2 separate regions of the Homo sapiens genome follow, and region 1 is linked to region 2. Evidence: fine-mapped expression QTL. A gene starts in region 2. The other region holds a variant in brackets. All regions are shown on one strand. Distances are from middle to middle. Region 1 overlaps PLEKHN1 (pleckstrin homology domain containing N1). Region 2 holds the start of SAMD11 (sterile alpha motif domain containing 11).

The links.
Region 1: its variant is fine-mapped to the expression of SAMD11 in caudate (GTEx, PIP 0.94).

What each region holds. Positions count from the first base shown.
Region 1 is chr1:974,729-977,517 of GRCh38, reverse strand. PLEKHN1 (pleckstrin homology domain containing N1) reads right to left here. Exons shown (of 16, transcript NM_032129.3): 16 at 1,653-2,789. It overlaps PERM1 (PPARGC1 and ESRR induced regulator, muscle 1), which reads left to right. Exons shown (of 4, transcript NM_001394713.1): 3 at 894-1,019; 4 at 1,249-2,320. The coding sequence ends at 1,346. Among named protein-coding and RNA genes, the nearest start is that of PERM1, 6.0 kb to the left of the region's middle. The variant T/C (reference allele first, on the strand shown) is at 1,303.
Region 2 is chr1:922,651-925,387 of GRCh38, reverse strand. SAMD11 (sterile alpha motif domain containing 11) reads right to left here and starts at 1,465. Exons shown (of 14, transcript NM_001385641.1): 1 at 440-1,465. The coding sequence starts at 956. It overlaps LOC107985728 (collagen alpha-1(III) chain-like), which reads left to right. Exons shown (of 5, transcript NR_168405.1): 2 at 1,927-2,113; 3 at 2,245-2,375; 4 at 2,653-2,716. RefSeq lists enhancers at 1-176, 1,842-2,420.

The DNA.
Region 1 (2,789 bases), 52 kb before region 2:
CCGGGGTTGGTGGGGGGAGCGGGAGGCGGTTCCCGGGGTTGGTGGGGGGAGCGGGAGGCGGTTCCCGGGGTTGGTGGGGGGAGCGGGAGGCGGTTCCCGGGGTTGGTGGGGGGAGCGGGAGGCGGTTCCCGGGGTTGGTGGGGGGAGCGGGAGGCGGTTCCCGGGGTTGGTGGGGGGAGCGGGAGGCGGTTCCCGGGGTTGCGGGGGGAGTGGGAGGCGGTTCCCGGGGTTGGTCGGTGGGGGCAGGCGGTTCCCGGGGTTGGCGGGGTGGTGGGAGGCGGTTCCCGGGGTTGGTGGGGGGAGCGGGAGGCGGTTCCCGGGGTTGGTGGGGGGAGCGGGAGGCGGTTCCCGGGGTTGGTGGGGGGAGCGGGAGGCGGTTCCCGGGGTTGGTGGGGGGAGCGGGAGGCGGTTCCCGGGGTTGCGGGGGGAGCGGGAGGCGGTTCCCGGGGTTGGTGGGGGGAGCGGGAGGCGGTTCCCGGGGTTGGTGGGGGGAGCGGGAGGCGGTTCCCGGGGTTGCGGGGGGAGTGGGAGGCGGTTCCCGGGGTTGCGGGGGGAGTGGGAGGCGGTTCCCGGGGTTGGCGGGGGGAGTGGGAGGCGGTTCCCGGGGTTGGCGGGGGGAGTGGGAGGCGGTTCCCGGGGTTGGCGGGGGGAGTGGGAGGCGGTTCCCGGGGTTGGCGGGGGGAGTGGGAGGCGGTTCCCGGGGTTGGCGGGGGGAGTGGGAGGCGGTTCCCGGGGTTGGCGGGGGGAGTGGGAGGCGGTTCCCGGGGTTGGCGGGGGGAGTGGGAGGCGGTTCCCGGGGTTGGTGGGGGTGGGGGCAGGCGGTTCCCGGGGCGGGCGTGTGCGGGGCCATCTCTGAGTGCAGCCGTGGGGCTGAAGGTGAGCTTCTGTCCTAGGGGAGCTCCGGGGGCCTGTCCCATCATTTGCCTTCAGCCAGAATGACATGTGCCTGGTGTTTGTAGCTTTTGCCACCTGGGCTGTGAGGACGTCAGATCCGCATACCCCAGACGCCTGGAAAACAGGTTTGGGTGCCTGGGGGCAGAGGGAGCTGCGCCTAGAAGCCAGACCGAGGGGCGCTGGCAGGACGAGGGGTGCACGGGGGCCCCGGGGCTCACCCCTGACCTGCTCCCCCCAGGCTGAGCTGCGGCCCTGGCCGCACCGACCTTGCCCGCCCTTTGAGGGCTGGGTCTTGCGGGCAGACGGTGCCGACAGCCAGGCTGGCCCTCAGAAGAGCCTGTGCTTCTCTTGCAGCCTTGCTGGCCAACGTCGGCACCATCTCTGCCATCCGCTACTTCCGCCGGCAGG[T/C]GGGGCAAGGGCGCCGCAGCCACAGCCCCAGCCCCAGCTCCTAGGAGCCAGGCCCGGGCCAGGGAGATGCAGGATGAGGAGACGACCACAGGCGCCCAGGGCAGGACGAGGTGCCGCCCTCGCCCGGGCCCTCTGACCCCTCTCTTCTACCGCGTCCAGGAGGGGGGCGTGTCCTGGTGCTGCTCCCTCCGACTCACCTGAGGATCCAGCCAGTGACCACGGCCACTCCCCACGCCTGGGAGGGAGGTGCTAAAGTCTGGGTGGGTGGAGGGCAGGCAGGTGGCTGGGTAGGAGGGTGGCCAGATTCACAGATGAGAACACAGGGCATTCGGTTAATTTCAGACAGGCAATAGTGGGGAGGTCATTTTACTAAGAAGTTGTTGTTTATCTGAAATCAAATGCAACCGCACCCTGCGTTTCTTCTGGGGTGCAGGGGGAGCTGAGTGGCAGGACAGGACTTGGACCTCGGAGGGGTCTGAGCAGCAAGACACTCCGGCTGGAGCTCTGGGCAGAGGCAGGGGAGAGGACACAGGGTGGCCTCAAAGAGGGGATGGGCAGCCTCCTCACAGGTGGGCTGGGCTGGCAAGGGCTCCAAGGCCCATCACTCTTGATCCTCAAAGGACTGTGGCCAAGGCCTCTGCGGGCTCTGGCCTGAGACAGCGAAGGCTCTGCCTGCCCCTCCCCAGTGCAGCAGCCCCTGCAGGGTGGGGGTCTGTGGCAGAGCCGCGAGCCCCTCCCCGGGAGCCCTGGGTGCAGGTGCAGAGGGAGAATTCGGTGGCCTCAGATGGAGGGCTGGGCTCCTGGGGTTGTCCCGGGGGCTCCTGTGGGGCAGCTGGGGACCCACAGCCAAGAGGAGTCAGAGATGAGGTGGGAAGGTCGGTGAGGGGCCCGAGGTGGCAGAGGAAGGGGGCTGCCTGGCTGGGTGCTGGGTGGGGGTCCTCAAGACTGTGGGAGACCCTGGCTGCTGAGCAGAGAACACATGGATGCAGCACCAATAAAATTCTATCTTTTCTTTTTCTTTCTTCCTTTTCTTATTCTCTCTCTCTCTTTCCTTCTCTTCTCTTCTCTCTTCTCTTCTTTTCTCTCTTCTCCTCTCTCTCTTCTCTCTTTTTTCTTTCTCGTCCGGTGGTGTCAACGTCTCCCGTGCTGCCCTGTGGTGCGCGCCAGGCCACACAAGGACCCACCCACCCTCCTCCTCGGGGCACCCTGGCTTGTGCTCCTCACACCTTGCTGACCTGTGACCCTCATGCCCTCTGACCTCACATACTCTGACCCTGCTGACCTTTCTCTGTCCTCCGACCTTCACGCCCGTGCTGCCCTCCCACTCCCAGCGAGTCTCCTCCCTGACTCCTGGCGGGCTGAGCTGAGGGCCGACCCTGTGGACGGCCAGGACCTCCCTGACCTGTGACCCAGCCTCGCTGGCCAGGGCATCCTTTGGATGGGGCCCCTCCCACCCTTCCCTGCCCCAGCTGCTGGCACCAAGGAAC
Region 2 (2,737 bases):
GCCGCCGCTCGGGCTCCGCGCGCGCCCCCGCGCCGCCCCGCAGCCTCCCCCGCCGCGCGCTCGCACCCGGCCGCACGTGCGCCCCTCCAGTCTCCCCCGAACCCGGGGCTCCGCGCCCTCCCAACCCGCCTCCTGCCCGCTCTCTCGAGTCCCCGTAAACTTCCTTCGGGCCTTAAGGCCCAGGAGCCTCGCAGAGACCTTCCGAGCGGAGGGAGCGGCCCGCGAGCCCCAAGCGCTGTGGCCCAAGCTGGGGGGAGGTGCAGCGGGGGGCGATCTGTCCGTGTTCACCGAGGCCTCCGCGCGCGGCGGGGGTGTCCCCGCGCAGCCCTGGAGCTGCAGCGCCCCCTCGGCCGAGCCGGAGGCTCCCGGGTGTCCGAGTCGGGTAGGGGGTGGGGTCGGGGCCCGCGGGTCCCGGCAGCGAAGGGAGGGGCGGCGGCACCTTTGTGGCGGATGCTGCGCTTCCAGTCCTTGGCCGTCTCGCGGCCGCTGACGAACTGGAACTCGTTGGGCGTGAGCCACTCGCCGCGGTGGCGGATGGACGGGCCCTTGCTGCCCTGGCAGAGTTTGCGCACGTAGAGCAGCGCGCGGTTGGCGCCGCACTCCACCTCGATGCACGGCTCGCCGTTGTCCAGCAGCGGCTGGAAATCCGGGGCCGCGGCCGCGGTGGCCGAGAAGCGCTCGAGGGCCAGCGGGTCCCTGGGCAGGTGGAGGTGCGGGGCGGCCTCGTGCAGGCTGAGGTAGGCGCGCGGGGGGCGGAGCGGCGGGGCCAGCAGAGCCTCGTAACCGGCGGCCGAGGCGGGCAGCGAGGCGGCCGGGGGGAGGGCGGCCGCCGCGGGCAGTGGCGCCAGGTAGCCTGGCAGCGGCGGCAGCGGCAGCGCGGCCAGGGTCGGGTGGAACGTGGCCAGAGCCAGGGCCAGGTCCTCGCGGCCCGGGAACTCCTTCTTGACCGCCGGCATGGCGCCCCGGTGGCTCCGCAGCCCCGCTCTCCGCCGGCGGCAGCAACTTATTCCGGCCCGGGCTGGAGTTGGGTCGCGGGGGCCGGGGAGGCGCCTGGCCGCGCGCCCACGCCGTCCGCTAGTGCGCCCCGGCGCCCGCAGCCGCCGCCTACGCGCCGCCCGCCAGGCCTCCCCGGACTGCCCAGCCGGCCGGCGGGGCCTCAGAGGCCGGAGACATGGAGCTGCTATCGATCCCGGATCGACTCGCCGAGCGCCGCAGTTCCAGGGCCTCGGGGCTCCCCGGGGCGTCTGGAGTCCCGCGCCCCGGCCACCAGCGCCCGCGCCCGGGGCAGTCCCACGCCCGGCTCGCCGACCCACCCGCCAGGCCGAGCCCGGCAGCGAGGAGTCGCGGAGTCCCCGCCCCTCTCGGGGGTCCCAAGCCCCCGCCCCGCCGCCCGGGCCGCGTCAGTCGTGCACCCGCGTCCACTGGCGCGCGCCCGCCCGGCGGGGACTTGGGAGACTCCGCCGCCGACGCCGCCGCCACAACTTGGCCCATTTAAACGGCCCCGGCGCGGCGGGCGGCGCGGGCTCCCGCGGGGGGTGCGTGACGGCCGACTCGGGGCATCCGGCGGCGGCAGCGGGACAGGGCTGCGGCCCCCGGCACTATCCCGAGTACCGAGTCACTGCGAGCGGCTGGAATCCAGGACTCCGCGCGGGACTGGGATGGGCTGGGCTGGTCGCGGACCGGGCTCCTCTCGGAGGGAGGGAGCTGGGGGCTGCTCGCCGGGGTGTGAGCGTGCGCCGGCGGCTCTGGGACTTTGCGCAGCGAATCTGATGGTGGGCGTTGGTGTCCGGGAGGGCGTGGGTGGTCTCAGTGCACCTGCAGGGAGCGAGGTTGTGGATTTGTAGTGTGTTGCCTGGGCAAAGTGTTCTGTGAATAACAGGGCAGCACCTCCCCGCCCACTCGTGCCCCTTCCTATGCACTTGACAGGAGTGAGTTCGCCCGAGCCACGGAGTTCCTGTTCAGTCTTTTGCAGAAGACGCTGAGACAGAAAGGTCAAGTAACTCTCCTGAAGTCACACAGCTGTTTCAAATGCAGGATGTCTCACACCAGGACCGCGCCAGGACCATGGTGTGGGGCAAGAGCTTCCTGTCACCCCACACCTCCCAGCAGGAAGGTGGTGTGGATCCGAGGCAGGGTGAGGGTGGGGGATAGCGGGTTGGCAGAGTGCACGGCCTCCCACTAGGAGGAGCAAGGCTAGTGAAGCAGGACCGGCCACACCACGTCCACCTTGGTGCCTTCTGACAGGTCAGTCTGGGCCCCAGTCCCTGGTTCCTGGTGAGCTTCCCATCACCCCCCACCTCCCTGCGTGCCCAGATCGGCATTGCATCTGGAGCGTTCCGAAGAGAAACACAACCTGGGGGCGTTGGTAACAGCAGGTGAGACAGCCTTGTCCTGCGCTGCTGTGCGGTGTTGCATCCACTAGAAAGGGGCCTCCTGTTCTGACCCTGGCCCCTGCCCTTGAGATGCAGCTGGCATGTCCCTGTGGGCATCTCCCAGAGCAGGTCCAGGGGTGAGTGGGCCACAGGCCTGTTTGCACAGGTGCCTTCTTCGAGGGAGGGAACAGCCCACCACCACCTCCTGCCAGACCAGCTTCCTTGAGCATAAACCTGACCCTGGGTGACCACGCTGGGCTCCTTCACCTTATCTCACCAGAGGCTTCTGCTGGTCCCACAGCCAACCCGCGGAGTGAGGTCTGGGCCAGGAGTGCTCTGCTCAGGCAAGGAACATGCCCAGAAGC